Regions from separate parts of the Homo sapiens genome. Here region 2 is linked to region 1. A link means that fine-mapping ties the variant in region 1 to the expression of a gene that starts in the linked region. Tissue or cell type: whole blood. Region 1 holds a variant in brackets; the other region holds the start of a gene. All regions are shown on one strand. Distances are from middle to middle.

Region 1 (5,306 bases):
TGTTCAAGCAATTCTCCTGCCTCAGTCTCCTGAGTAGCTAGGATTACAGGCACCCGCCACCACGCCCGGCTAATTTTTGTATTTTTAGTAGAGACAGGTTTCACCATGTTGGCCAGGCTGGTCTCAAACTCCTGACCTCCAGTGATCCAGCTGCCTCAGCCTCCCAAAGTGCTGGGATTACAGGCGTGAGCCACTGCACCCAGCCTCATTCCGTTTTCTAGTTCATTGATGCCCCTTGAAACCCAGACTTGGGGTCCCTCTCCCTCGTGCTGCCCCTGGGCCTCCCAGCCCAGCCCGTGTAGACCTTGCCTCTTTCCTGTCCCTGGATAAACAGACTTTCTCCACCAGAGCTGACCAGCTCCCAGACTCCCTTGGCTTCCAACGACAATGGCTTCTTGGTGGCCTTCACTCTAGGCCATGAGTTCAAACAATTTCTCTTTTGGCAGAGAAATCCATTTCCAGCAAAAGGGTGGGTCTGTAGCCAAGCCCTGACTCAGTTTCCCCTCTATGTCCCTGGGCCCTAAATCCTGAAAACCACTCTTCCTGTCTTCACTCCCAACCTGTCTCCCAAGGATACTTTTCCAAGAGTTGATTCTGTTCCAGACTGCTCACTCCAGCTCTTAACGTCTTTCTCTTCCAGCTTCTGGAAAGACACTGTGTCTCTAAATCATATGATTAGCATTTTATACCCTATACTTCCCTCTCCCATGGGGCCCTGGCCATGCTTAGAGACACCTCCTCCCATTTTCTTGCCATCTCCGGTCACTCAGGCCTCCGTTTCAGGGAGTTGTGAAGCCGGAACATACACCTCAAAGGCTGAACAAGGCCTTTGCTTTGGGCTGGGCAGGCGGCATCCCCACGTAGGGGCACTCCTGATCTAGAATCCTTTCTAGGCAAGGCAGTGTGGCCCTGGGAAGAGAGCAGGGGGCTTATGATCAGAGTCAGGCCACAAATCCTAATTCTACAACCCACTGGTTGGGACTTGCCCCCCTCTCTCTCCATCTCCAGACTTTAAAAAGCGGAAAAGAATATCTGTGCCATGAGCTTGTTGCCAAGATTAAGTGAGTTATCCCATGTGAAAGTGTCTGCAAACCGTGAGATGCTGTGCTGGTTTTTTCTGTGAAAGGCAAACAGCAGCATGGCCTGGCGTCGTGCGTCTTCCACCTACATCCCATTTGCAACCTGACCCTCATTCCCTTCTTTCCACCTTCCTTTGAAGAACTGGATGGTACAAGTTGGTGTGTACACACACACACACGGCTGTCTCCTTGGAAACACATGCTGAGGCTCCTAGAGGCATGGTGCCATCTGCCCTGCACCCAATGGGACAGCCCCATTTCATAACAGGCAGGATCTCAGTAGGACTTGCTGGGGCAGAGGCAGGGGTACAGGAGGGGGCCTTGGTGTCATCCTCTTGGTGGACTGAGGGAAATGAGCCGAGAGTGTGGACTCGGTGCAGCCTGGGCTCTCCTGAGCTTGGCCTGAGTGAAGGGCCCTGTGTTTGCCTCCATGCACAGCCTGGGAACCAGAGCAAAACTGAGAAATCGAGGAGTTTGCTTTCAGGGACGAGGATGGGGAGAGGGCCTTCTATGTGCTGGATATGCTAGCTCATTTAATCCTCACTGCCTCTTTCTAAATGGTATATTTCCCCTGTTATTCTGGTGAGAAAATGAACAAAGAGGCACTGGCTACCCTCAGGGCCAGTCTCTCTCTTCTTCCTTCCCACCCTAGGTGCCCAGAGCCTTCTTCTCTACCTGCCCCCCACCCCATCCCTTCAGAGAAATGTGAGAAACTCATTCTTACCAAGTGCCAGGCATTGACGGCATGTCGAGGAGTGATCCTTCCAGATGGCTAGGCTGCTGCAGGACGGGCTCCTGACTTGACAGCCACTGTCTCCTGAGCGTGAGCCAGGACTGTATTGTGTGTGCCTATGTCACTATCTGTGCAATGGCTCTGCAAGGAAGGTATGATCATCCACTCTACGAATAAGGACATCGACGCTCAGAGAGAGGAAAGGCCACACAGTTGTTGAAGGATTCAAACCCAGTTCCTCCTGACACCAGGCTCGTGTCTACCCATAGGGTGGGTACCCATGTGGGTACCATGTCTCGGGTCGTAGCTCTTCGTCACCCAGCCACTCATCACGTGCTTCCAGAGCGTTTGCTATGCTTGGAGAGCCCGGGGTGAATGAAACCAACTCTACTCTTGCTCCCCTGGTGTTTGGATTCTAGAGGGGAGAGAGAATCTGCTGTGTTTAGGCAGGAGGCGGTGGTGGTCAGGACCAGCCTCTCCCAGGGAGAGGCATTTGAACTGAGGCCTGGAGGCCTGGAGGGTGAGGAAGAGCCAGCTACCCGAGGAACTTTCAGGCTGTGGGAAGAGCACCTGCAAAGGCCCTTCCTGGGACAGGAAAGAAAACGGGTCTGAGGAATAAAAGGCCACCATGGCTGCAGAAAGCAAGCAAGGGGGAGAGGGGTACCAGGTGAGGCTGGAGAGACCCGAAGGGCGAGCACCTGCAGAGCTTTGACGGTCATAAAGAGGAGTGACGCTCTCATCTCCCTGTCTGTAAGGACCCTCACACTCACTATTCTTGGGGAAGTGGCTGGTGGGGAGAAATTAGGTATCCCCAGAACAACCCAAGCAGGAATTACAGTAGAGTTAACTTTGACCGAGCACATGCTATAGGCCAGGTGGTGTCCTAGCACTGTGCCTGAATGGACTACTTTACTTCGGACACCACGGTACAGAGAAGTTCAACAATTTGTCCAAGGTCACCAAGAAATACAGTTAACCCTTGAATACCACAGGGATTAGGAATGCTGCCCCGCCATGCAGTAGAAAATCTGCATATAATTTTTGACTCCCCAAAAGCTTAACCACTAATAGCTTATTGTTGATGGGAAGCCTTACAGATAACATCAACAGTCCATGAACATATATTTTGTATGCTATATGTATTAGATAGTATATTTTT[C/CT]TTTTTTTTTTAGACGGAGTCTCACTCTGTCGCCCAGGCTGGAGTGTGGTGGCGTGATCTAGGCTCATTGCAACCTCCGCCTCCCAGGTTCAAGCAATTCTCCTGCCTCAACCTCCTGAGTAGCTGGGATTATGGGCGCCCACCACCACGCCCAGATAATTTTTGTATTTTTAGTAGAGACGAGGTGTCACCATCTTGGCCAGGCTGGTCTTGAACTCCTGACCTCATGATCCACCTGCCTTGGCCTCCCAAAGTGCTGGGATTACAGTCGTAAGTCACCACGCCCGGACTTTTTTTTTTTTTTTTTGGAGACGGAGTCTCCGTCACCCAGGCTGGAGTGCAATGGTGTGGCCTCGGCTCACTGCAACCTCTGCCTCCAGGGTTCAAGCGATTCTCCCGTCTCAGTCTCCCGAGTAGCTGAGACTACAGGCGCATGCTACCACACCCGGCTAATTTTTGTATTTTTAGTACAGACAGGGTTTCACTATGTTGTCCAGGCTGGTCTGGAACTCCAGACCTCATGATCTGCCTGTCTCAGCCTCCCAAAGAGCTGGGATTGCAGGCATGAGCCACCGCGCCCAGCCTATATACTGTATTCTTACAACAAAGTAAGCTACAGAAAATAAAATGTTATTAAGAAAATCATGGCCGGGCGCAGTGGCTCACGTCTGTAATCCCAGCACTTCGGGAGGCTGAAGTGGGAGGAGTGCTTGAGCCCAGGAGTTTGAGACCAGCCTGAGCAACATAGTGAGACCCTGTCTCTACCAAAAAAATTAAAAATTAGCTAGGCAAGCCAGGCATGGTGGCTCACGCCTGTAATCCCAGCACTTTGGGAGGCCGAGGCAAGTGGATCACAAGGTCAGGAGATCGAGACCATCCTGGCTAACATGGTGCAACCCTGTCTCTACTGAAAATACAAAAAAAATTAGCCGGGCGTGGTGGCGGGCACCTGTAGTCCCAGCTACTCGGTAGGCTGAGGCAGGAGAATGGCGTGAACCCAGGAGGCAGAACTTGCAGTGAGCCGAGATCGCGCCACTGCACTCCAGCCTGGACAACTGAGCAAGACTCTGTCTCAAAAAAAAAAAAAAATTAGCCAGGCAAGGCAGTGCACACCTGAAATCCGAGCTACTCTGGAGGCTGGGGCAGGAGGATTGCTTGAGACCAGCAGTTCAAGGCTGCAGTGAGCTATGACAGCATCACTGCACTCCAGCCTGGGGGACAGAGCAAAACTGTCTCAAAAAAAAAAAAAAGAAAAGAAAATCATAACAGAATCTTAACTAAGTTGAAGTGGATCATTGTAAAGGTCTTCAGCCTTGTCTCCATATTGAGTAGGCTGAGGAAGAGGAGGAGGTGGAGGAAGAAGAGGGGTTGATCTTGTTGTTTCAAGGGTAGCAGAAGTTGAAGGGGAGGCAGGAGAGGCAGGCAAATTTAGTGTAACTTTTGTTGAAAAAAATCCACATGTAAGTAGACTCATGCAGTCCAAACCCCTGTTGTTCAAGGGCCGACTAAAGTGGAAGCAGGAGTCAGCCCCAGGGGGTCTGGCTCCAGAGGCCCACCTCTGTCCCCTCCAGCACGTCTTTGACTGCAGAAACCGTGGCTATCTGGTAGTGGCTTCTGAGACATCACACAGGGCAGAGGTGAGGGCTTCTCTCTGGAAAGGGCACTCTTGAGGGAGCTCTCCATTTGCAGACCAAGCCCTGGTAGCGGACAGAATGCAAGACAAACAGGAAACTAGCACTTTTGAGAGTACTGACGAGGAGGGCAAGAATCAGTAAAGAGCCTCCACCCACCACTTCTCCCCTGGAACACACTGAGACCAAGGAGGGTACAAACCACAGAGCCCAGGCACAGGTATGTGGGCTAAAAAGGAGAGCTGCTGGCAAGGCTTGTGCGGGCAGACTTGCCAAAGGATGGCTCATGTTTGCTGTTCCAGGTTCAATTGTGAATCAAACACAATGCCTGTTATTTGATGTTATTAATGCTCCAAATGCGGCCGGGCGTGGTGGCACACGCCTGTAATCCCAGCACTTTGGGAGGCCGAGGCGGGCGGATCGCGAGGTCAGGAGATCGAGGCCATGCTGGCTAACACAGTGAAACCCCGTCTCTACTATAAATACAAAAAAATTAGCCGGGCTACTTGGGAGGCTGAGACAGGAGAATGGTGTGAACCCAGGAGGCAGACCTTGCAGTGAGCCGAGATTGCGCCACTGCACTCCAGCCTGGGCAACAGAGCAAGACTCTGTCTCAAAAAAAAAAAAAAAAAATTGCTCCAAATGCATATCATTTAGCTCTGAAAGGTTTGGTTAACTGTCCTACTAGTACCAAGAACAAAGCA
Region 2 (5,306 bases), 86 kb before region 1:
CTAAAAATACAAAAAATTAGCCGGGCCTGGTGGCGGGGGCCTGTAGTCCCAGCTACTCGGGAGGCTGAGGCAAGAGAATGGCATGAACCCGGTAGGTGGAGCTTGCAGTGAGCTGAGATTGCGCCACTGCACTCCAGCCTGGGCAACAGAGCGAGACTCACCTCAAAAAAATAAAATAAAATAAAATAAAATAAAAATTAACCAGGCCGGGTGCGGTAGCTCACGCCTATAATCTCAGCACTTTGGGAGGCTGAGGTGGGTGGATTACCTGAGGTCGGGAGTTCGAGACCACCCTGGCCAACATGGAGAAACCCTGTCTCTACCAAAAATACAAAATTAACCGGGCGTGGTGGCACATGCCTGTAATCCCAGCTACTCAGGAGGCTGAGGCAGGAGAATCGCTTGAATCTGGGAGGCAGATGTTGGGGTGAGCTGAGATCGTGGCATTGCACTCCAACGTGGGCAACAAGAGTGAAACTCCGTCTCAAAAAAAAAAAAAATTAACCAGAGTCGGGTGTAATGGTTCACTCCTGCAATCCCAGCATTTCCGGAGGCTGAGGTGGGCGGATCGATTGAGCACAGGAGTTAGAAACCAGCCTGGGCAGTATGCCGAAACCCTGTCTCCACTAAAAATACAAAAACTAGCTGGGTGTGGTGGCAGGTGCCTGCAGTCCCAGCTACCTGGGATGTAAGGTGGGAGGATCACTTGAGCCCCGTAGGTGGAGGCTACAGTGAGCTGAGATCTTGCTGCTGTACTTCTGGAGACCCTGTTTCAAAAAATAAATTAACCAGAAACCAGCCCAGTGCAATAACTCACACCTGTAATTCCAACATTTTGGGAGGCTAGGCGGGAAGATCACTTTAGACCAGGGTTCGAGACAAGCCTGGGCAACAGAATGAGACCCTGTCTCCACAGAAAAATTTAAAAATTAGCCAGGTGTGATGGCATCTGTAGTCCCCATGACTTGGGAGGTTGAGGTGGGAGGATCGCTTGAGCCCAGGAAGCCGACGCTGCAGTTCAGCGGTGATCGTTCCACTACACTCCAGCCTGGGTGACAGAAGGAGACCGTCTCTAAAAAGATAAAAAAATTTAAAGAAAAACCAACAAAAAAATTAACCTGAAACCCCAGCATCTCTTGCAGTTCTGAGATGGGACAATTTGAGGGTAAAAGGTGGTGGTGAAGCCTCCAGATAGAATAGGGACAGAACTTCTCAGCTGAACGGGGGCCCATTCCTCAGTCCAAGAGAGAGCGAGACAGAGATGCACCCCTCCACACTCACTTTATAAACCAAGAAACTGGAGCACAGAAACGTAAATTGATTTGTCCAAGGTCAGCAAAGGATCAGCGCCAGAGCAAAAGCAAAGGGCTAATAGAGAAACATCCTCTCCCCGCTCCGCAGCAACGTCAGAGACTTTCTGAGGTGAGATGCATGCTCCTGCAAAGCGTCAGCAGTGACTCACATCGATTCCAGGGACAGCGGCGCCAGCCCGGGGCCCCCGCGGGCGTGGGCCTGCTGGGAGGTGGCTCTGCGGGAGCGACGCGCGAATACAGGCCGCAAATGATAGGCGGGCGGCGCAGGAGCCCCATCTGGAATCCCCGGCGGACTCGCACCGCCTCCGGTTGACAACAATGCTAATATGAGACGCCACTGCTAGCAGCTGCAGGCTGAGCTGCTCTGGCGAGTCAGACGCCCTTTAAGCCTCAGTTTCCCCATTTGTGAAAGGAGCCAGCGCCGCTCAACAACCCCACTCCCACCGCCACCCCTGGGGCGCTCGGCCGTCGAAGGCTAAGTGAAGAAGGCCGAGGGGGCAGGCAGAAGGCGCACACGGGCGCCACGCCCTCCTCGCCCCGCACCCCTGTTCCAGGCAGGTGACGGGGAAAGGAAAGGGACCCTGACTCTACCGTAAACAGGCGGCGCCGCCGCGTGGGGGGAATCGAGCGCGCGCCTCCGCCCTCTGGGGCGGGGACGGATTTAGGGTCCGGGTCAGGCCGGGGTCGCCACCTCCGGATCCAGCGGTCCAGATGTCCAGCCGGCTAGTCTGTTAGCTCTCTCGAGCTCCCGGCCTCACGCGCTTCCAGCACCACCTGCTCTCCGCACCGCGGCGGATGATGGCGGAGGAGGAGGATTTTGAAAGCCGGCAGTTTCTTTGCTTCGATTTGATTTGTTCGAGGCCCCGGCCGGCTTGCCCTCGCCCCGCTCGCGCGGCCTCTCGGGTAGAGTAGTCCGGTTCCCCATCTGGGAGCGCGATGGGGCGCGCACCGCGAACTACCCGTCCCATGGCGCACCGCGCGCAGAGCGTCCTCCACCGCCCTCCTCTTCGCCCTCCCCTGGTGGCTTCTGGCTCTTTCTCGCAGAGACCGCAGGGAGGTGTTCAGCCGGGAGCGCCCAGAGACTACAATTCCCAGAATGCGTTGCACCCAGGTCCCTCAGCTCTTCCGGAAAGGTTTTGTTCGCGTAACTTTGTTGATAACAGGTACTGCTGGCTGCTGGGTCTCTTGGGCAAGACACAGGTATCCATTTCCCGAAAGAAAAGACTCTTTTCCGTCCCATGAAACTGAAAGGGCATTCGAAGGCTTCCACATAAATATGCACAAATTACCTGATAATTAAAAAGGGGAAATAGTAACTATCGTAGAGAAGCTCCGCAGACACCACTTGAACGGCCACGTTAACATCAACAGCAGGACAAGCTGACATTCATCGCACGCTTTCTGTGTGATGCACTGAGAAAAACACGGCGTCACCGTCCGGTCTATAATGCATGACCTTAGTCTAATCATGAGAAACCCAAGCTGAGGGACATGGTACAGAATAACTGATCTGTACCCTTCCGGAAATGTCTGTATTATGTAAGACAAAGAAAAACTGAGGAACTGTTGCCGATTACAGGAAACGAAAAAGACAACTGAATGCAAGACATGGTCCTGGATCGGATCCTGGGTGGGGATTGCTATAAAGGACAATACTGAAACAGCAAAACTTGACTATATTAGATAATAGTATTGTATCAATGTTAAATTTATTAATTTTGATTATGGTACAGGGTTATGTAAGAGACTGCCCTTGTTCTTGGAAAAAAATGCTGAAATAATTAGGGACAAAAAGGACATGATGTCTGCAACCTTTATGGTTAAAAGAAATATACCTATACATATACATAGAGAAAGCAGAGACACAAATGTGGCAAAATGTTAATCAGTTAATCTGGTTGAAGAATATGGGAGTTCTTTGAACATTTTTGCAACTTTTCTGTAGGTGTGAATTTAAGCATAAAAACACAAACAGCGTTTTTTTTTTGTTTTTTTTTTTTGAGATGGAGTTTCACTCTTGTTGCCCATCTTGGCCTCCCAAAGTGTTGGGATTATAGGCGAGAGAGTGTGAGACCAGCCTGGGCAACATGGTCAAACCCTGTCTCGACAAAAAATACAAAAATTAGTTGGACGTGATGGTGCAAGCCTGTAGTCTCAGCTAAGGGCCTGAGGCAGGAGGATCTGGAGCCTGGGAGCTTGAGGCTGCAGTGAGCCGTGATTGCACCACTGCATTTCAGCCCTGGCGACAGAGCAAGACCTTGTCTCAAAAACTGAAAAAAGAAAAAAAAAAAAAGTTAAACAGATCATGCAGGCTGGGCGCAGTGGCTCACACCTGTAATCCCAGCACTTTGGGAGGCCGAGGCGGGCGGATCACCTGAGGTCAGGAGTTTGAGACCAGCCTGACCAAAATGGAGAAACCCCGTCTCTACTAAAAATATAAAATTAGCTGGGCATGGTGACGCATGCCTGGAATCCCAGCTACTCGGGAGGCTGAGGCAGAAGAATCGCTTGAACCCGGGAGGCGGAGGTTGCAGTGAGCCGAGACGCACCATTGCACTCCAGCCTGGGCAACAAGAGCGAAACTCCGTCTCTAAATAAATAAATAAATTAATTAATTAATTAACAGATCATGCCATATCCTTTTACACACAGCTCATTTAATCTTCACCACCACAAGGGAAGTGGGCATCATTACCACCCTTCCCAGCACAGAGATGAGAAAACTGAAGCTCTAGACAGAGTGTAACTCTCCCAGTTCTCAAAGTTCCTGAGATGTGGATCCTCTTTCCACCTTCCCTCTCCTTTTTACCTACAAGGCCCATGTCAAATGCTACTTCATGAGTCTCTCCCTCCTGCAGGTGCCCACAGCAAGATGCAAAGCCCCACAGCAGTTGGCCTGGGACTCTGGGGCTCTTTGACAGAGTTAACACTGTTCTTGGCAGTTTCCTCCTCAGCCTGGGAGGGTCTCCAGAGCAGACGCTGTATCCATCTGGGCAGTATCTTCTCTGGGCCTGGCCTGTCATAGGTGCTTCAGGTTTCCCCATTTGAACCAGATACCAGTCGGGTTACCGGATGTTTGCTTAAAATGAGTCATAGGCTTCCTGCTATTCCTGTGCTGCTTCCAGCTAGGACTGATCGAATCAGTCTGGATTTTCCTTGGGGTGATCCGCAGGCTCCCTTTTCCAATTTTACTTCTTGAGACTTTCCTTGGCCCTCACACAGAGACCTCCCAAAGGGAAGAGGAAGGTGGGCAGGGGAACATCTTAGCTGATCCCGTCCTCATCCAGCTGATAGGACATTGGGTTTTCGGAACTGGAAGGGAATTCTTAGACAACAGAAATTCAGTGGCCTTCAAGGACCTGGGAGGTAACAGGAAGTCATGGGGCTTGTCGGGGCTTGGTGGGGCTTGGGGGGAGTTAGAGAGTGGATGTTCTGCCTGAAGGTGTTCACATTCGAAGCTAAAAATCACAAACTCAGCCTGACAGCACCCCCTAGCAATCTGGATTCTGTCACTCCTATATCCTGATTTTTTTTTTTTTTTTTTTTGAGATGGAGTTTCACTCTGTTGCTCAGGCTGGAGTGCAGTGGTGCGATCTCAGCTCACTGCAACCTCCGCCTCCCAGGTTCAAGTGATTCTTCTGCCTCAGCCTCCCGAGTAGCTGGGACTACAGGTGCACGCCACCACGCCCGGCTAATTTTTGTATTTTTAGTAGAGACGGTTTCACCATATTGGCCAGGATGGTCTCAAACTCCTGACCTGGTGATCCACTTACCTCGGCCTCCCAAAGTGCTGGGAGTACAGTACAGGCGTGAGCCACTGTGGCCGGCCTCCTGAATCTATCTTAAACCTCTTTACAAATGGGGAGACTGGGGTTTGAAAAGGAACAGGGGGTTTGCCCAAGGGTGCCCAGTGAATCAGAAGAATCAAGAATCATCACTGTTTCTGGCCGGGCACAGTGGCTCATGCCTGTAATCCCAGCACTTCGGGAGGGC

What was found. PIP is the estimated chance that this variant, and not a neighbour inherited with it, causes the effect.
Region 2: RANGAP1 starts here. The variant in region 1 is fine-mapped to the expression of RANGAP1 in whole blood (TOPMed, PIP 0.98).

What each region holds. Positions count from the first base shown.
Region 1 is chr22:41,370,507-41,375,812 of GRCh38, forward strand. It overlaps LOC105373042 (a long non-coding RNA gene), which reads right to left. Exons shown (of 3, transcript XR_938271.3): 2 at 4,528-4,668; 3 at 142-2,227. It also overlaps a transcript of TEF not described here. Among named protein-coding and RNA genes, the nearest start is that of TEF, 8.8 kb to the right of the region's middle. The variant C/CT (reference allele first, on the strand shown) is at 2,972.
Region 2 is chr22:41,284,082-41,289,387 of GRCh38, forward strand. It overlaps RANGAP1 (Ran GTPase activating protein 1), which reads right to left and starts at 2,106. Exons shown (of 16, transcript NM_002883.4): 1 at 1,905-2,106. RefSeq lists enhancers at 1,809-1,878, 2,309-2,528, 2,559-2,628, 2,949-2,998.